Linked DNA regions of Homo sapiens. The protein of the gene in region 1 purifies or fractionates together with the protein of each later gene. This does not show direct contact. Each region holds a gene or a part of one and is shown in the gene's direction. Other genes may lie near its edges.

The links.
Region 2: the proteins of ESR2 (region 1) and COPG2 purify together in Homo sapiens (affinity purification with mass spectrometry; 3 studies listed by BioGRID and IntAct, with this or other methods). This does not show direct contact.
Region 3: the proteins of ESR2 (region 1) and COPB2 purify together in Homo sapiens (affinity purification with mass spectrometry; 3 studies listed by BioGRID and IntAct, with this or other methods). This does not show direct contact.

Annotation. Positions count from the first base shown.
Region 1 is NC_000014.9:64,256,367-64,263,393, reverse strand, and holds part of ESR2 (estrogen receptor beta), read left to right. Parts: intron 1-2,645; coding exon 2,646-2,945; intron 2,946-5,978; exon of another isoform or gene 5,979-6,029; coding exon 6,030-6,168; intron 6,169-7,027.
Region 2 is NC_000007.14:130,560,740-130,567,766, reverse strand, and holds part of COPG2 (coatomer subunit gamma-2), read left to right. Parts: intron 1-3,373; coding exon 3,374-3,507; intron 3,508-4,430; coding exon 4,431-4,498; intron 4,499-6,545; coding exon 6,546-6,734; intron 6,735-7,027. UniProt on the Homo sapiens protein: The coatomer is a cytosolic protein complex that binds to dilysine motifs and reversibly associates with Golgi non-clathrin-coated vesicles, which further mediate biosynthetic protein transport from the ER, via the Golgi up to the trans Golgi network.
Region 3 is NC_000003.12:139,372,639-139,379,665, reverse strand, and holds part of COPB2 (coatomer subunit beta'), read left to right. Parts: intron 1-199; coding exon 200-286; intron 287-492; coding exon 493-619; intron 620-1,476; coding exon 1,477-1,625; intron 1,626-4,051; coding exon 4,052-4,198; intron 4,199-5,077; coding exon 5,078-5,177; intron 5,178-5,857; coding exon 5,858-6,000; intron 6,001-6,253; coding exon 6,254-6,453; intron 6,454-7,027. UniProt on the Homo sapiens protein: The coatomer is a cytosolic protein complex that binds to dilysine motifs and reversibly associates with Golgi non-clathrin-coated vesicles, which further mediate biosynthetic protein transport from the ER, via the Golgi up to the trans Golgi network.

The DNA of each region.
Region 1 (7,027 bases):
TGAGCCAGCGCACCTGGCCTTTGTTGTTTTGAAGTATATGAGTTTAGAATTATTTATCTTTTTAAAATATTCTAGCGATGAGTCTCCTTATCTATAATAATAATTTTTGCCTTAAAGTTTATTTGTCTGGTATCAATAGAGTAATGTCAATTTATTTGGTTAATTTTGCCTGTTAAATATTTTTCTATCTGTCTACTTTGTTTTTCTATATGTTAGGTATATCTCTTACACCTAATCTATGTCTAGATTTAAAAATATGTATAATTTCAGAGTCACTCTTAAATGGTCAATTTGGTATTTTTTGTTTATTGTGATAACTGATATTTGGGTTCATTTCTATCATCTTATTTTTTGATTTAAAAAATTTTATTATGTATTTTCTACTTCTTCCCTTTTAGGAGTTGATCACATTTTTATGTTTTCTTTTTCTTCTTTTGCTAGTTTAAAAGTCATACATTCTGTTTCAATTCCCTTTTATCTTTTGAGACAGAGTCTCGCTGTGTCACCCAGGCTGGAGTGCAGTGGTGTGATCTTGGCTCACTGCAGCCTCTGCCTCCCAGGTTCAAGTGATTCTCCTGCCTCACCTTCCTAAACAGCTAGGATTACAGGCATTTGCCACCATGCCCAGCTAATTTTTGTATTATTAGTAGAGATGGGGTTTCACCATGCTGCCCAGGTTGGTCTTGAACTCCTGGCCTCAAGTGATCCGTCCCCTCCCGCCCCACCCGCCGAAACCACCTTTGGCCTCCTAAAGTTCTGGGATTACAAGTGTGAGCCACCATGTTTGGCCATGTTTCAATTCCTTTAATGACGTTTATGTTTTGTAACGTGTTCTTGATTAATTTGAGAATTTAAGCTTCTATCTTCCCAAAAAAGAATCTTAGAAATTCTAACCAAAATCATTCCTCTCTGATTTTGCATGTTATTGTTTGTTATTTTGGTTCCACCTTGTTTCTATATCACTAAAACTTAATTCTTGGGCCGGATGTGGTGGCTTATGCCTGTAATCCCAGCACTTTCAGAGGCCAAGGCAGGAGGATCACTTGAGCCCAGGAATTCGAGACCAGCCTGGGCAACATGGTGAGACCCTGTCTTTACAAAAAATACAAAAATTAGTCAGATGTGGTGGTGCACACTTGTAGTCCCAGCTATCCAGGAGGCTGAGGTGGGAGGATCTCTTGAGCCTGGGAGGTTGAGGCTGCAGTGAGCTGTGATCATGACTGTACCACCATACTTCAGCCTGGGTGACAGAGACCTTGTCTCTTAAAAAAAAAAAAAAAAAAGTAAATCCAAAGAACAAGCATATAAATCAACTTTGCTAGTAATTAAAACATACAAAGTAAAGCGAGATGGTTTAGTTAGATTAGCAAACATTAAAAATGATTTTTAATGCCCAATGGGTTCTGAGAAAACAGTCAAACTATTGAGGACTGGGTAACATAGTAAGACCCTAGTTCTACAAAAAAATTTAAAAGTTAGCTGGGCATGGTGGCATATTCCTGTAGTCCCAGCTACTCAGGAGGCTGAGGCAGGAGGATTGCTTGAGTCCAGGAGATGAAGGCTGCAGTGAGCTATGATTGCATCATTACACTCCAGCTTGGGCAACAGAGCAGGACTCTGTCTCAAAAATACAATTAAAATAGTGTAGATACTACAATCTAATTTTGTGTATAAAGGCTGGGTGCAGTGGCTCACGCCTGTAATCCCAGCACTTTGGGAGGCCAAGATGGGCAGATCACTTGAGAATCAGGAATTTGAGAGCAGCCTGGCCAACATGGTGAAATCACATCTCTACTAAAAATATAAAAATTAGCCAGGCATGGTGGCGGGCTCCTGTAATCCCAGCTACTTGGGAGGCTAAGGCAGGAGAATCGCTTGAACCCGGGAGGCTGAAGTTGCAGTGAGCCAAGAATGTGCCACTGAACTGCAGCCTGGGTGACAGAGTGAGACTCCGTCTCAAAAATAAATAAATAATTTTGTGTATAAAACGTGGAAAAATATGGTGGCAGGCACCCATAGTCCTAGCTACTCGGGAGGCTGAGGCAGGAGAATGGCGTGAACCCGGTAGGCGGAGCTTGCAGTGAGCCGAGATCACACCACTGCACTCCAGTCTAGGCCACAGAGCAAGGCTCCGTCTCAAAAAAAAAAAAAAAAGAAAAAAGAAAAATAAAAGCATTAAAAAGACTGAAAGAGTTTATGCCAAAATTTATTCTCTTCTATATTTTTCAGATTTTTTCACTTAATTTGTTATTTGAAATATACTTGTTTTGTGTAAGTATAAGGAAATATATACATATGCACACATGCATATAAACATTTTAAGAATGTGTTATAATAAAAGTATATTATTTGATACCTTTGGAAATATCCCCATTTTTCTACCTGAAGAAAATTCCTAATTTCATGGTTTGGAAACAGGTTTATGAGCACTCTTTATAGAGAAACGGTGTTAGTATCTATAGATGACCTGGAAATGGAGACCTAAAAAGTTTCTGAAAAGTTATGTCGTTGGTTTTGCTAGTACGGTCACGACCATAGTAATCTTTGGTACGTGCCCCACAGGCTCCAGAAAATAAAAGTCAAGCTGCTTTTGCTTGACTGCGGTTTTACCCTGGCAATTCGAATGACTCTGCTTTCCTCTTCAGGCTCCCGGAGAGAGAGATGTGGGTACCGCCTTGTGCGGAGACAGAGAAGTGCCGACGAGCAGCTGCACTGTGCCGGCAAGGCCAAGAGAAGTGGCGGCCACGCGCCCCGAGTGCGGGAGCTGCTGCTGGACGCCCTGAGCCCCGAGCAGCTAGTGCTCACCCTCCTGGAGGCTGAGCCGCCCCATGTGCTGATCAGCCGCCCCAGTGCGCCCTTCACCGAGGCCTCCATGATGATGTCCCTGACCAAGTTGGCCGACAAGGAGTTGGTACACATGATCAGCTGGGCCAAGAAGATTCCCGGTAGGGCTTTCTGGCTATCAGTTTTCCATGTACTTGTAGAAAGGCCGGCCGCTAATATTTAAGGGGCAAGAGTACAAAGTAGAGGTCCATGAGCTGTGCCTAGATATTTAACAGGTCCTCAGCTGGATTTGTAACTTTTAAGTGCAATATGTTCCTTCCTTCTGTCTTGGCATACCTACCTTCAACAAGGCCGTGTTCTGATTTAGAATTCTGAGACTCTTCTGAGTTCTGTACCCAACATGGTAGTGCAGAAAGAGTTGTGCGTGGCCCAGCCATTTCTATTCTTGACTGCCTTCTTTTCCCATGGCTAGATGCATCCCATACCACCTTGCACAAACCCTATCCTGTGTGTCCACATCTGCTACAGACACTCACCTGTTGGCCACCTCTCATGCCTAGAGGTGGTCTGGGAGGATGGACCCAGGGAACCTACCTAGGCTCTGGAATTGGGCTTGGGGTCATTTGGGCAAGAATCCTAGAGTCCTGGAACCTGGAACGTGGTTAAAATGATAGACTCCACATTGACCCATTTCTTGGCTGTGGATTCCTCACCTTGAAAGGAGGGGTGGGGTAGAGTACAGTATGACTAGTTTGAAAGTGAAAGGTTTGTCAGATGCTAAATAGAATTTTGTAAATTATTGTTCCAGTAGAGAATCAATATTATGTACATAAATGAATATGTATGGACAAACAGAGTAAATCAGTGGTTGAAGTTACACGAATCATCAATGGGCCCATAAACCTGGAATGCCATCAAGTTAAAAATGAGCTTAGTTACTCATGAGTTGTCACTTGGAACCTGCGTTTTCCATCCTCCAAAGTGATCACTTCTCTCAAGCCCATTTGTAATATATATCTGAAGTGCTGTATGATGCTAAAATTACCAGCTAATTATCATTTGACTTGGTGTTTCTGTGGAGGAGTGAATCTAGGATTCTAACCTAGAGTGGCAACACCCCACGATCCCCCTGTGACAGCTTCTCCATGCTGTTCTTTACAGTCCTTGAAGAAATGAAGTCTCTTATAAGTTCTGAGCCACTGGGGGCATTCCCATGGCCTGGAGGGCAGCGACTGCACTGGGCAAGCTGTAAAGATGAGGAGGGGTGAGAAGCTGGGGGAAGAGAAGTTTTGGGTAAAGAGCCTGGGGAACTGAGGCCTATGGTGACAGTATCATTTGGGGACTTTTGTTGGCCTGGGCCCATTTCTTCTGAGCTTCCTGAGGATTTTTGGTTTCTAGTTGTATTTTGTTTTGTCTAGCATCTTCACCTTTGCCAGAATTATTTTATTTTCTCTGCTTTTTCCCAGGGGAGGCAATACTGATGCACTTTCCTCTAGTTTTTGCTTTAAATGTATTCCAAACACGATTTTGCAGGACCACACATGGAGAGCAGTGGTGAAATTAATTATTGCTGAAAGCTGTGCACCTTCTTTGTGCCATAAGAAATCTGAACTCTTAAACTGCATTATTCCTTATTCAAGCCTGGTGTTTTGAAAAGTTTTCAGGAAACGTAGACATAATCTGAAGGCGTGATTTTTTTTCTCCTCTCTTAGCTGGCATAGTCATTGTCCAAACCAAAAAATATATATTAAAATATCATCTAGCCTTGATCTTGTTGAATATCTACAAGATTAAGAACCGTGATCTCTCTTGGGTAGGCTTATTGTCAATCACTATGGGTGAGACTGGGAAGGTATATACACATTAGGAACCTAAACTGAGCAAAGCATGTGGATTTAGAAAGTATTTATCCATCTTTACATTCATAACACCATTACATTCTCCTTGAGGCAGATTTGCGTTATAATTGTTCAAAGACTTGAACCATGTGTGTTCTCTCTGCTGTAGTTTCCTCATCTGTAAAACAAGAATGATAAGAGATCCTGCCTATAAGACATTCTCAGAGATAGGCATTGTTACCCCCATTTTCCTATAAGAAAAACAAAGACTTAATGGGAGATTAAGTGAACAGCTAGAAAGAGGCTGAGCTGGGGTTCGAACCAGAGTCCATTTCACTCCAAGGCGGTGTCTTTTGTTATCATATTTATATTACATGGCCCTCTCTTTTTATCATGGCTTGTGAAGGAAGCCCCGGTGTTCTCTGCTTTGCTTTTGAAGTGCTTCCCTCCCCAGAGATTACCTGTTTGCAAACAGTACTGTGACCAACATGGGTTATTAGGTTGTCAGGACCTGCTTCGTTATTATATTTGCTCTTTATTTATTTATTTATTTATTTATTTTTGAGACAGGGTCTCGCTCTGTTGCCCAGGCTGGAGTGCAGTGGCGTGATCTCAGCTCACTACAGCCTCGACCTCCTGGGCTCAGGCGATCATCCCACTTCAGCCTCCAGAGTATCTGGGACTACAGGCACCTGCCACCATGACCAGATAATTTTCTGTAGAGATGGGGTTTCTCCATGTTGGCCAGGCTGGTCTCAAACTCCTGGGTGCAGGCAATCCACCCACCTTGACCTCCCAAAGTGCTGGGATTACAGGTGTGCTTGGCTATATTTGCTGTTTAGGATAGAATCACCCAGAAACAGTGCTTCTACCCAGAAGAAGGATCTTAACACTGGATAGGAAATTTTAATCAATCAGAGAAATCCTTGCAGTTGAGGCCTTGGTTTTCTGTGAGGGCTGGCACTGCTCTCTGCAAGCCTCCAACCCCAACCTCCACCTACCCCATCCCCCACCTACCCCATCCCCCACCCCTTCTGATCCCAGTCAAGGATTGGGTCAGACAGGCAGGTCTTCTGACTGGCAGCCAAGCATCAACATTCTCAGTAGTGCAGAGGAATTATCAGGACACAGCTAACAAAGATCAGTTCTGAGCCGAGGTCGTAGTGCTTGACAAACTCTAAATGAAGTATATTTGTCTCTAGAAGGGGTCCAAGACTGGAAACTAAGTTGCGCAGCTTAACTTCAAAGTTTTCTTCCTTTAATGAGCAGTTAATCACATCTATAAAATATCAACTCCCTAATGGTTTGTGTTTTCTTAGTGTTTTAACACTTGCCATTCTGTCTCTACACACACAGGGAGCTGAGGAGGAGGGGTGGGGGTGTCTCACCGCCTCTTGCTTTCCCCAGGCTTTGTGGAGCTCAGCCTGTTCGACCAAGTGCGGCTCTTGGAGAGCTGTTGGATGGAGGTGTTAATGATGGGGCTGATGTGGCGCTCAATTGACCACCCCGGCAAGCTCATCTTTGCTCCAGATCTTGTTCTGGACAGGTGAGAAAAAATACATTGTGTTTCTTCTCTGACTTGTTTGAGTAAGGTGCTTAGTGAGTGGGAACAAAGTCCTGGGTGCTGCAATTAAAATCTCACACTTGCAGGGCAGAGGATGATAGCATCATCAGCTCCTTCACTGGGTCAAGAACCAGAGAAGGAGAGAGTTGGGTCCAAGGATTCAGGGTCCTGTGACTCATTTTTAATCTGTGGTGCAGCAGCATTTACAGGCCAGCGCTTTAATAGGGGACTGTATCCCGTAGGTATGTGGCCACTATGTGTATAAGTCGACACAGATTTTTCTCCATTAAAAATTCCATTTTCAGGTTATAATCTTAAGTTGTCCTGCTGTTTTTTGTACCTATAGTGACCAATTATATCTGGAGCTTTCTGGACAGGTGATAAAATTCTTAGAAATGTGCCAAGTTTATTTTCACATGCTTTAACTCACTCTTTTGTTTTTTTTTGTTTTGTTTTGTTTTGTTTTTTGTTTTTTTTCTGAGATGGAGTCTCTCTCTGTTGCTCAGGCTGGAGTGCAGAGGTGCAATCTTGGCTCACTGCAACCTCCGCCTACCGGATTCAAGTGATCCTGCTGCCTCAGCCTCTCAAGTAGTTGGGATCACAGGTGTCCACCACCATGCCAGGCTAATTTTTCTATTTTTAGTAGAGAAGTGGTTTCACCATGTTGGCCAGGCTGGTCTTGAACTCCTGACCTCAGGCGATCTGCCCACCTCAGCTTCCCAAAGCGCTGGGATTACAGGCGTGAGCCACCATGCCCGATCTGCTTTAACACATTCTAATGCATGTACTATATAGCATTTTTGGCAATAGCGGTGGAAGGAAGGGTTACTAAAACTATATG
Region 2 (7,027 bases), on another chromosome or scaffold:
TCTCAGCATCTGTTTATCTGAAAAGAACTTTATCTTTCCTTCATTTATGAAGCTTAGTTTCACTGGATACAAAATTCTTGGCTGATAATTATTTTTTTTAAGGAGGCTATCGATAGGACCCCAGTCCCTTCTAGTTTGTAGGGTTTCTGCTGAGAAATCTGCTGTTAATCTGGTAGGTTTTCCTTTATAGCTTACCTGATGCTTGTGCCTCACAGCTCTTAAGATTCTTTCCTTCATCTTGACTTTAGATAATCTGATGACTAAATGCATAGGTGATGATCTTTTTGTGATGAATTTTCTGGCTGTTCTTTGAGCTTCTTGTATTTGGATGTCTAGGTCTCTTGCAAGGCCGGGGAAGTTTTCCTTGATTATTCCTTCAAATAAGTTTTCCAAACTTTTAGATTTATCTTCTTCCTTGGGAACACCAGTTATTCTTAGGTTTGGTCATTTAGCATAATCTCAAACTTCTTGGTACCACCCAGTTGGTAGTTTTTTTATCCTCATCCTCTCCCACCCTACACCCTCAAGTAGGCTCCAGTGCCTATTGTTCCCTTCTTTGTGACCATGTGCACTCAATGTTTAGCTTCCCTTATAAGTGAAAACATGCAGTATTTGGTTTTCTGTCCCTGTGTTAATTTGCTTAGGATAATGGCCTCCAGCTCTATCGATGTTGCTGCAATGGACATAATCTCATTCATTTTTATGGCTGCATAGTATTCCATGGTGTATATGTACTACGTTTTCTTCATCCAGTCCACTGTTGTTGGGTATCTAGGTTGATTCCATGTCTTTGCTATTGTGTGTAGTGGTGCAGTGAACATAGGAGGGCCTGTGTCTTTATGGTAGAACTGTTAGTCCAAACTGTACCATTTTGTAAGCCCCTTGTCATTTCATAGACCTTGATCAAAGTGAAACATTCCTTGGGGGACTGGGCCGTGAGAAACATCCTGCCCGACTGCCTGACTTTCTTATCACATTCTGCTGGGAAAAAGTCCAAGGAACATCACTGTCACATCCTGCCAGAACAAGGGCCAAACCACCTCATCATGGGAACATCTTATCAACATCCTCCCGGGCAGCAAGCCATAACCCTCAGACCCCTCCCTCCCAGGCCTAAAATTGCCCCAGCCTGTAAGCAGAGGTGGGCCCTGGCATTAAGCTGGTGCCCCGCCTCTGCAGGTCTTATGCTGGACATAAAACCTGCATTGCTGTAGAGCCGCCAACTCTCTCTCAGTCTTTCTTTAATCCTCGCCTTCTCATCAAAACCTAAGAAGAACAATTCATATTCCTTCGGGTTCGTATTTAGTAATGGGATTGCTGGATTGAATGGTAGTTCTGAGGTCTTTGAGAAATCTCCAAACTGCTTTCCACAGTGGCTGAACTAATTTGCATTCCCAACAGCAGTGTGTAAGCATTCCCTTTTCTCTGCAACCTCACCAGCATCTGTTACTTTTTGACTTTTTAATAATAGCTATTCTGACTGGTACAAGATGGTACCAAGCATATGAAAAAATGGTCAACATCACTAATCATTAGAGAAATGCAAATCGAAACCACAATGAGATACAATTTCACACCAGTCAGAATGACTATTTTTATGCTTTCAACAGTTTCACTCTGATGTGTATATATTTGAATATTTTTGTATTTATTCTGCTTGAGACTTTTTGAGCCTCTTGGGTACATAAATTAATGTTTTTTCTAAATCAAACTTATGAGGTTTTCAGCCATGGTTTCTTCTTATGTTCTTTTTCCCCTTTGTGTCTCTCTTTTCCTATGAAAACTCCTATCATCCAAAATGTTGGTACCCTTGGTCATGTTACACAGGTCTCCAAAGCACTGTTCATTTTTCTTCCTTCTTTTTTTATTTTCATCAGCTGGTTTATCTCAGTAGATCTACAAGTTTTCTTATTCTTTCATCTGCCTGTGCAAGTCTGCTATTGAACTTTTTCTGGTGAATTTTTCATTCCAGTCATTGCACTTTGCAAATCTAGAATTTCTATTTGGTTTCTTAAAAAAAAAAATCATTTCTGTCACTTTATTGGTAGTCTCATAAGACATCTTGTTGTACTTCCCTTTAAATTAAATATTTTAGTTTCCTTTAGTTCTTTGAACATATTTATATTAGCTGACTTAAAGTTTTTGCCAGTAAGTTCAACATCTGGGCTTCCTCAGGAATAAATTCTATTGACTACTTTTTTTCCCCCATAGATGGGTCATAGTTAAGTATTTCTTTGTGTGTCTCATAATTATTTTGTCAGAAACATTATATTTTAAATATTATAATGTGACAACACTGGTAATCAGACCTTCCCTTTCCCTATCCCTGGGGTTTGTTGTTTTTGTTGTTGTTTGTGACCTTCCTGGACTATTTCTGTAGTCTTTATTCTGTATCTTGTATAGACACTGAAGTCTTTGTTTGATTAGCTGAGTCACAAATAATAATTTGACAGATTTTCTTAAATGCTTTAAACCAGTATGTCTCCCATCATTTTCCAACGGGTGCTGTGTATGTTGGGGCGTGCTTTCCATGCCCCGGGAGTTCACAGCTCTGCCTTAGCCTTCACTTCCTGCTTTGTGCAGAGCCTCAGAGTCAAGCAAAGGTTAGAGAGCGGAGCTCTGTCAGGTCTTTAGTGGCTGTTTGCTTAGCCCTGCACATGCACATGACCTTCTGTATCCCCAGAAATATTTTAGAAATTTTCAAAGCCCCCTAAGGACATCTCATTTCTCAAATTTTCCTTTTAAGTTTTTTGGCCAGCCTCTTGTTTGCCCCTGCTAAAATTGCTGCTTCTGGCAGCTGCAAGATTAACCAAATACTACTGATTTTTTTGGACAAACTCCCTGGGCATAGGGCTTTTCATGCTGAATGAGCTCTTGAGTCAGGTGAAGTAAAGATTAGCCTGTGAATAGGGCTTTTCTAGGAGCACCAGACAGGTCACATAGTGACAGTTCTCTGGGGATGAGATTTTGGCCCAGAGCTGCTTTTGTAGCTAGGCTGCTGGCATTCACAGTTACTGTGGTTCTGAGGCTGCTGGTTTCCAAGACTGCTATGGAACTGGGAAGAGGTGCATGGAAATTGAGAATGAGTAGGTTAAAACACCAGAAACTTCACCATTTTTACTAAGATTCAGCTACTTTTCTTAAATAGATGTTCAGGATTGTTGCAAATCTTTGATTAATTTTTTAGAGTTCTGCAAAAGTTGATTTTGACAATTTTGCCAGTGTTCTAATTGCTTTGTGATGAAATGAATTTTTAGAAATCCCTCATCCACCATTCCAGAAGTGCCTCTCAATCTGCCTGTGCTTTTAATCCCTATGCATATTGCCTCTCTATTTGATATCTAAATAATGGCCTATAAATATTTATTGGCAGCCATGAAAGTCCACTGTTTGATTTCATTGAGAGCTGCTTGCGAAATAAACATGAAATGGTTATTTATGAAGCTGCTTCAGCTATCATCCATCTTCCTAACTGCACTGCAAGAGAGTTGGCACCTGCTGTTTCAGGTTTGTTTTATATTTGATGGCTGGCTTTTATGTTCCTAAGTTTTTGCTTTAAGTTTCATAGGTCTACAGAATAGGTATTAAGAATGTTTTCTGAACACTAGCTCTGTGTATATATAGCCTTTGCATTCTGATAGCTTATATGTAGATAGTTTATTTTAGTTGTTCCTTACTTTATTACTTTTTTTAATGTTTCTATTTCTCCATATAAAACTTTTGAAAGAATTTTATTTATATGTACATAGTTTATTAATAATAGTTCTTTATTGCTTTTTTTTAAAGTTTCTGTTTCCTCGTATGAAACTTTTGAAAACATTTTACAGTTTTCCTTGGTGTTTAAAAAGCCCATTTGTTTTCAGAACTGTCAATATTTCTACCATTTAGTTCAGGTATTAATGGGTATTCTAATTTTTTTTTAAAAAGAGCAAACTTTGTTTCTTATTTAAGTTTTTATAACTGACCAAAAGTGCTTTTTCTTTTTTTTTTTTCTTTTTTTTTTTTTTTTTTGAGACGGAGTCTCACTCTGTCACTGAGGCAGGAGTGCAGTGGCACGATAGCTCGGCTCACTGCAAGCTCTGCCTCCTGGGTTCACGCCATGCTTCTGCCTCAGCCTCCCGAGTAGCTGGGACTACAGGCGCCCCAAAAGTGCTTTTTCTATTTTGATGTTACATTTTTCATGTAAATTTTTGATGCTGTGATAAAATGTATGCATATTTTGAATGTGATTCATTATGTACTATATTTTCAGCTATATGGTATATGATGAGATAAGGAATATTCACAGCATATATAGGTAATAGTCACTGTATCTATATCTGTATTTTACTTCTTCAACTTTTCTATAGTTCTCTTAAGCCAGGAGTATTCACGGTATGTATATGTAATATTACTTAATGTTACATATTATTATTATTATTTTTTTTTAGTTCTTCAACTTTTCTGTAGTTCTCCTAAGCCAGCCTTGAGATATGCAGCTGTGAGGACCTTGAACAAGGTAGGTGTTTCTTTGCTAATTATTGACTTATATCAGTATTTAATTGAGAAACATTAAATGTGAAGCATTTGGTTTTCTCTCCAAGGTTAGTATATGTGATTTATGGGCTTCACCTCTACAACACTTCACTTGTATTTGTGGCCTTGAGTATGCTCATTTTTATTATTATTTAGCTGAAGATTATAACTCATTTCTGACTTCTAAGCATTTTATATTCAAGAGCCACACTGTCCAATATGGTGGCCATTAGCCACCAGTGGCTATTTCAATTTAAATTAATTAAAATAAAAAATTCAACCCTCAGTCACATGAGTCACACTTCTTGTACTCACAGCCACATGTGGTCAGTGGCTGTTGGACAGTGCAGATCTTGAACATTTCTGTCATTGAAGAAAGTTCTCTTGCACAGTGCTGGTCTACAGCAGCCCTGTCCAGTAGAAACCCACTGTGAATCACATATGTAATATTAAATTTCATAATAACCACATTAAAATTTTTAAGGTAAAATTAATTTTAATAGTATATTTTATCATAATACATATAATATGTCATCTCAACATGTAATAGATATTTTTACATATCTCAAGTTTTTGACATCCAGTATATTTACATTTACAGCATACTCAGTTTGGATTAGCCACCTTTCAAATGCCTGGTAGTCACATGTTGCTGTTGGCTATGTTATTAGACAGTATAGATTTAGAGGATATAATACAGAAACACAGAATAAATTAAATAAGCATAGAAAATGTAAATGAAAGTTAAATGTAATAGAAGACTTGTCATAGGCAATACATAATTATAAATTAATTGTGTAAACAGTCGAAGAAAAGAGAAGTTTAGAGCAGCCATGGAAGAAACCTTTATAGAACAACAATTTAAATGGTTTTTTATTTATTTATTTTTTTTGGAGACAGAGTCTCACTTTGTCTCCCAGGCTAGAGTGCAGTGGCACGATCTTGGCACACTGCAACCTCCGCCTCCCAGGTTCAAGCGATTCTCATGCCTCAGCCTCCCAAATAGCAGGGATCACAGGCACCTGCCACCACGTCCGGCTAATTTTTGTATTTTTAGTAGAGACAGGGTTTCGCCATGTTGGCCAGGCTGCTCTCAAACTCGTGACCTCAGGTGATCTGCCCACCTCGGCCTCCCAGAGTGCTGGGATTGCAGGTATGAGCCACCAAGCCTGGCCTAAATTGTTTTTAAAGAGTTGATACAGGTCTACAATCCCTCATCTCTAATCTTGGGGCCAGATGTGTCTCAGAATTTGCTTTTAGTTAAATTTTAGAAAGGTTATATGGTGTTATCTCTTATTTACTAACCCCAGTGGGCCTGGGGCAGCATCCCACCATTAAAAAACATTAATATTTTTGCACAAAACATATGACTATCCTTGTCAAGTGGTATAAATTAAGAATTAAAGAGTTTCGCATTAGTTTGGGTCATGTTTTGCTGTTAAATGGATTTTCATCCCAGTGCTCTGCTTTCCAGAGTGTTTTCAGATTTTCCAAATTGTGGGTAAGGGATTCCATACCAATATTGGGATAGACAAAGAGGTGGGACAACATCAACAAAAACAAGGATGCAGGAGAATGGCAGACCATGTAGTAACCATAGATAATGCAGTTTGGCTGGAGTTTGCGTCTTGAAATGCAGCAGTATTTTTTAACTGATAAGATATTAACAGTCTTTGTCGAGCACTGACTACTATGCTAGATCCTGTTGTCAGTACTCCTAACATCTAATAGAATAGACGTATATGAACACACGTACTATAAGGAAATACAGGCCAATTATAATTTTTTAAAAATGGTAATGTTAGAAAGGTTAGAGGAACCTAACAAAAGAGAGTACGATGCTATACTCTGGCCGTTGATCATTTATTAAAAGATATACCTTGTTAACTGGAGCCATTCTTTTTGTTTTTGAAGCAATTACTTTTAACTTATCCTGTCCTCTTTGGATTGCCACTTACCTCAATTAAAATTTAAGTTCTGGCCTTTATCAAAAGCAATTTGCTTAATTTTTTTTCTTGCCCTTCCACAAGGTGGCAATGAAGCACCCCTCTGCTGTTACTGCCTGCAATCTGGACTTAGAAAACTTAATCACAGACTCAAACAGAAGCATTGCTACCTTAGCCATTACTACACTCCTCAAAACAGGAAGTGAGAGCAGTGTGGACCGGCTCATGAAGCAGATATCTTCTTTTGTGTCTGAAATCTCAGATGAGTTCAAGGTAAGAGTTTAAACATGATCATATTTTCTCCCAGTCTGTTGGCTGCCTATTTATTTTCTTAACGGTATCATTTGAGAAGCAGAAGTTTTAAATTTTTATGAAGTCTAATTTATCAATTTTTTTCTTTCATAGTTATTACTGTTCCCTAAGAAACCTTTATCTACTTGTTTTCTCATGCTTTAGGCTAAATGCTTTATGGTTTTAGATTTTACATTTTAGGCAATGATCCAACTTGAATTACTGTTTGTTTGGTAAGTTCAGTATTTTTTCCATACCTATATCTACTGTATTCC
Region 3 (7,027 bases), on another chromosome or scaffold:
AAAAAGTGTTTTAATTTCGAATCTATTAAAAGATAGTTGGTCTTTTTTAAAAATTTGAATGTTGAGCTTTTATATTTTAGCCTGAGAATATACTAAAATGAGAAGTGATCTTAAAAATTGGATGTTTGAAATATAACAGAGTAGATTTTGTGGTTATTTTCTTATAGCTCAATTTGTGTATTCTTGTTACATTTTAAAGACACTGGTGAAGACATTTGAAGTATGTGATCTTCCTGTTCGAGCTGCAAAGTTTGTTGCAAGGAAGAATTGGGTTGTGACAGGAGCGGTAAGTAATTAATATGAATCTCTATTCCCATTTTCTGAATTGGTCAATGATTGTGTAAATTTGTTGCAGGATTTTGATTCCCGATTTGTTTTGTTATTTACAGCAATGTTTTGAGGCATAGACTTTATTCCTTGAGCCTGTGATATAGTTTTTTTGTATAATTTACTTGATAACAGGGATGATGGTTTTAAAATTTCTGTTTCTAGGATGACATGCAGATTAGAGTGTTCAATTACAATACTCTGGAGAGAGTTCATATGTTTGAAGCACACTCAGACTACATTCGCTGTATTGCTGTTCATCCAACCCAGCCTTTCATTCTAACTAGCAGTGGTAAGAGATGACCTTTTTTGGTCATGTGCGTCTCTTTGGGTAATTCATTTTCATTCACTGAGACATGCTATGCTTTAACTGCTGTTACAAATATAATTCTAATTCCAAGCGGCCTTTAAACTATTTAGATCCATTACTGTGCTATTGATGCTGCTTGTGTTTGTACTATAATGAAATATCAACTGTACTTAGGATTTGTGTAATGATTGCTCCAGTTCCTGTCAGAGAAGACCTACAAGTCTAGATGTTTAAACATCTGCTGAACAGAAAGGTCATTTACATGTTGATGAGTGAGTTTTTGGCAGATTGCCATAGACCCTATTCAGTTCAATCTTTATATTCAAACTAGTTTGCTCCTTGGTATTGTGTATAAATAGTAGACCTCTTGGAGGACTGGAAAAAGAGGTAGCACTGAATTAGTAATAGCTCTTTGAAATGTTTTTAAATTAAAAATTGAGAAGTAATTAAAAACTTTTTAAAAACCAATCTTGTGAGGGCAAATGCTTGTTCTCTACATAGTCATTGCTATCACTATTCAGTCATGCTTAGATCTAGTCAAACTTATATTACTCTTTGGCCATTCTTTAATGCCCACTGAATTTTTAAGTTTTTTCACAGAATTTTTATATTTTCTATTTCTAATCTATTTTATTTATTTTATCTCCACTTTTCTGTAGAGAGTTAAATTTATTTTTAAGATAAATAAGCATTTTGAAAACTCTATTTGGTTTTGATTCTATTTCTGTAAGTCATGGATTATATGGTTTGTGTTAGGTTTGCTTCTTCTAAAGACTGTGTCTTAGTTATGAAGTGAAAAAATAGAATTACAACTAACTTGAGACTTTCTTTTGGCCTAGATGACATGCTTATTAAGCTCTGGGACTGGGATAAAAAATGGTCTTGCTCACAAGTGTTTGAAGGACACACCCATTATGTTATGCAGATTGTGATCAACCCCAAAGATAACAATCAGTTTGCCAGTGCCTCTTTGGACAGGACTATCAAGGTAGGGCATCCACATTTTGTGTCAGTTATCATTATTAGTGAACTATACTTGCCTTAGGTGTTTTACTGTTGACTGGTCAGAAATGTACCCATCTTAAAAATTTTCCTCAAAAGCCTGTTTTGAAGTCAAAATAGGATTTCTCATTTTAATCCAAACGACATGTTCTGTTTAGAAAAATATTGTGGCAACTCAGTGCTCTTAATGAGGAGCGTTTTTCTGTGTGGAGGCAGCATGTTATAAAAATTTTTTAGCCTTTGGAAACCCAGAATAAGAAAAATGCCAATATCTTTTTAGGATACTACTGTCCTCTCCTTTTAGTATTCATTGTTGACTTCTGCTCATCGTTTATCTATTTTACATTTAAATTCCATATGCCTCTATTCTCTCTTTCTTACTCCATTTTACCACACTGCTGTCTGTTATCTTTCTGAAACAGTTCCTGATCTAAGGATAAAGTCCAAATGCCTTAGTGTGGAATACAAGGATTTCCAGGACTAGCCTGGGCTAATATTATGCGACATCTCCTAAAACCCTGGTCTACTCACCATCCTCTAGAGAGGCTATGAATGTTCACAAAACCTTACTTCATTGAACTGTTCCATCTTCCTGCACTTCTCTTTATTTTCCTATTTTGATATATTTTCCTCCGGAGAATTACTCAGCTTTTAAGGTTTAGCACAAATATTTACTCTTGAGAACCTCTTGTCAGACATCAACTTCACCTCTAGACAGAGCCAGTTATGCTTATCCCATTTCTTCCATTGCTTTTTGCCTCTGTTTCAGCCTTTCTCAGATTGAATTATTATTACACGTTTTTGGAAATCTTTATCCCCTGAAATACTGGATTTGGGGGATAGAAACTGTGTCACTCCCTTTCCCCAGCCATTCAATAGCAAACAGCAAAGTGCCTTACCTGACCTAGATGCTTAATACATGTTGCAGTGAGGGCAATCATGCTTCTTTTTTTTATCATAATATTTAAAATATTTCCATGCCAGGCACGGTGGCTCACGCCTGTAATCCCAGCACTTTGGGAGACCGAGGCAGGTGGATCACAAGGTCAGGAGATCGAGACCATCCTGGCTAACACGGTGAAACCCCGTCTCTACTAAAAATACAAAAAATTAGCTGGGTGTGGTGGCAGGCGCCTGTAGCCCCATCTACTCGGGAGGCTGAGGCAGGAGAATGGCATGAACCTGGGAGGCAGAGCTTGCAGTGAGCCGAGATTGCGCCACTGCGCTCCAACTTGGGGGACAGAGCGAGACTCCATCTCAAATAAATAAATAAATTAATTAATTAATTAAAATATTTCCATATGCATTGACTTAAAATAAATTAACTTTTGCTTACATGTTTGCTTTCACCTATATAAAACACTGTTAGTAGTTTTCCTTTATGTAAAATGTTATGTGTCTGAATATCTTAGGGTTTTAACCTTAGCTATTTTGCCTTTGATTGGATTATCCTTGCTTTTGACATAGATTAACTTTGAAATTAGTTGTAAACTTTTATTTTTACTAATTTAGGTTTATCTTGAGAACAATAATTGTCTTATCTTCAGTTCCAATAAAGTTTATTTTATACAGTAATTGATAAACATTTGTTACACGTTTATACTCCCCACAGGGCCTCCCATATAATAGGCACTCAATAAATATTTGTAAAGATAAAGCTTAATTCTGTGCTGTGGTAATTTTTAACAATTTTCTACACTTTAAATTGGTAATTAGGCAGTAATTTTCTCCTTTTAATAGGCCTTTATTTTTATTTATTTATTTATGTATTTTTGAGTTACGGTCTGTGTTGCCTAGGCTGGAGTGCAGTGGCATGATCACAGCTCACTGTAACCTCAAACTTCTGGGCTAAAGCGATCCTCCTGCCTCAGCCTCCTGAGTTGTTAGGACTACATGCGTGTGCCTTCATGCCCAGCTAATTTTTTACTTTTTACTTTTTTGTAGAGACAAGGTCTTGCTGTGTTGTCCAGGTTGGTCTTGAGCTCTTGGGCTCAAGTGATAACTTCCATCTCGGCCTCCTAAAGTGCTGGGATTACAGGTGTGAGCCACCACACCCAGCAACTTTTAATATATCTTACTAAATCTACTTTCATGAGCTGTATATTAAATCTATAATAAAATAATTTCATAACATCTAGATTCCTGGGCGTCACTGTGGATTGACTGACTTATAATCTCTAGAGATAAAGCCTGGAAATTGGCACTTCTTTTAAAGAACGCCATAGTGATTTTGCTCCCTGAAAATTCAAGTAAAATGAGAAAGAACAAAAACCAAACAGGATAAAAAATAAAATTTGATAGCTCTTCTCTCCTGGGCTTTGGCATTTTACATAATGTGTCAGAAATATGGTGGATTTGCCTTTTGTAAAGCAAGGCCCCATATTGACTGGCCGATGCTGTTTCTCTCTGCAGGTGTGGCAGTTGGGCTCTTCGTCACCAAACTTCACTTTGGAAGGACATGAGAAAGGCGTGAATTGCATTGATTACTACAGTGGTGGGGACAAGCCATACCTCATTTCAGGTGCAGATGACCGTCTTGTTAAAATATGGGATTATCAGGTACAGTTTTTCATAACCTTACTTCCATATGTTAGATATGTTTCTTACTATTTCTTATAGGACAGTTAAGACTTGGGTTGTTGAAAACTGTTCACAGCATAATAACTTAAGGTATCAGTATTTGCACCTAAACTGTGTTCCCAGAATTCTCCATAAAAATGAAAACAATGCATATCAAGATTTTAAAAATAAAATACCAACATGTTCATATTTCATTTCATAATTGCATTTAGAAATTTTAACATTTTAATGTTGAATTATCCTCCATAATCTTCATTGATAGACTTCTATTCATTTTTGTAAGCTAGCAGATCAACAATTACCAACCATTTTGCCAAATCGTACTCTTGTAAACCTAGTTATGAATTCTTGTTAACATGCTTCCTATCTCTAAGATTTTCTTATATTTTGATATTTTTGTTTTCCACATCAAAAGTTCCCATAAGCAATTAATAAAATGAGGTCTAGAAAGTCAGTTTTTCCTTGAAACATTTTCAGATTTGTACTTAAATCCAGAATAAAAATATTAAAGGCTAAAGCAGCACTGTCTACTTAGCCAGTGATGGTAGGTGTGAGTTTTAAGGGGGAAATCTATTATCCTGAGAATTTGGGGGAATAATATTCAGACAAAAGCCTTCTTGGGTTTTTTTCCCCTTCTTTAAATGTGATAGTTACATTTACATTTATTTTACAAAGTAATTAGATAAAATATTCATATATACAACAAGATCATCCTATTTCAAAAATTTCTATATTGGATATTATTTAGATTTTCATGACTACTATCATTTATAATGTATCTGTACACTGAGAAAATTAAGGGCGGGCTGGTTACATGTTTTTCATTAATAAAACATGTTTTCTATGTCTTAATTACAGAATAAAACATGTGTGCAGACACTGGAAGGACATGCCCAAAATGTGTCTTGTGCCAGCTTTCATCCTGAGTTGCCAATCATTATCACAGGTTCAGAAGATGGTAAGTTAGAAGGGTATGTTTATTCCTGTGCTAGTAACTACTCAGTGGGCATTTAAAGCAAGTAATGTCTCTGCATTATAATTGTAGGTTTCCAAGGATTTTGATATTTTTATTAAAGTACCAGACTTAAGCTATAAAAGAGTAAAGGGGCATTATTTTCATCATCATCATCATCATCATCATCATCATCGTCATCATTCTCATGTATTTTGATTCTGTCACTTAAATAAGAGGACCGTCAGCTGTCCTAAAGAGAAACTGAAAAAGCATGTGCTTTGGAGTCAAACAAACCTGGGTTCAAAATCAGGCTCTGTTATGTCATGAATGTGTGTTTGGGCAAATTATGAAATGGAAACATATATATCTGCTTCATAAAATTATAGTGAGAAGAAATTGTGGGTAGAAAGCATCTGGCACATAGGAAACACTTTACCCAGGAAATCCTGTTATTATTTCATGTTTAAAATCGTAATTCTTAGTTTTTGTTTCTTATATGTTATGTGTTATGTTTATGTTGCTTTTAAAAATCATTTAAAGACAGTAGGTCAAAAAATTGGTCATTAAGCTGCCAGGAAGTGTTATCTGTTTGAATAGAAAGACTTCTATGGGTCTCTTTCACCTGACACAGTTTATTGTCGGATGTTTGTATCAAAAGGGAGTATTTACATTGTTCTTTTTAGGAACAGTACGTATTTGGCATTCAAGCACCTACCGGCTTGAGAGCACACTGAATTATGGAATGGAGAGGGTATGGTGCGTGGCCAGTCTAAGAGGGTCAAACAATGTCGCTTTGGGCTATGATGAAGGGAGCATCATTGTTAAGGTAATTATACTATCCCTCTCAGTAGGTGGACATAGGCAAAACCATTTTCTTTGTATTTTAGTACTGTCATCTTCCAAGTAACCAGTTTTATAAAACTGGCACTTCTTTCATTAAGCACTAGACATTAAGCAATGAAGATTTAAAGTGGAAGAAAGGAAATGGAGCTCTCTGTTAGGTGAAAAAAATAATCTGTTTTGTTTTGGTTTTATTCATTTTCCTTTTCATTGCTGAGAGCTATTTTTCTTTCTTTCAGCTTGGTCGGGAGGAACCTGCCATGTCCATGGATGCCAATGGAAAGATAATTTGGGCCAAGCATTCAGAAGTCCAGCAGGCCAACCTAAAAGCAATGGGAGATGCTGAAATTAAAGATGGTGAAAGATTGCCACTGGCAGTAAAGGATATGGGCAGTTGTGAAATATACCCTCAGACTATTCAGCACAATCCTAATGGGCGGTAAGCCATCACCAAAATTGTCCCTCAGCTTCTGTGTATGTTAGAACAGGTTTGCAGATCCACAGTCCACTCTTGCCCTGTGGTTGGCATCTCTAATCATTCCTCAATGTGCTTTTGCCCTGGCCTCACAATCCTCAACACAGCTGCAGTCAGCCATGCCACTTGATCAAGTTGGCACAAAAGATGGAGCATGTTTCCCATCTGGACTTGTTCTATACCACACAATTTTGAATAGTTAAATAGTAGTTTCCTGTTATTTCGCATGCATTGAGTTTGTGTTTTTGTGTGCTCCTTTGAGGGCAAGGAGTATGTCTTATGCTGAGACTTAGTAGGTGCCCTCTCTAAATGCTTGCTGACTCATTGCTCTTTCAAGAAGAAAACCTGACTCTGAGATATGTGTCTTTTGAAAAAGTTTTGGGATTGATAATAATTCTGTTTCTTATTTGTAATTCGAACTGTCAGTTGAATTTCTCCCTTAAGATTTGTAAGTCACCAAACATCTTGTGAGAGAGGAGTTTCTAGCACAGTGAAGTCTAAACCTGTGGAGCTTTAAAATTATTTTACAGCAGGTCTG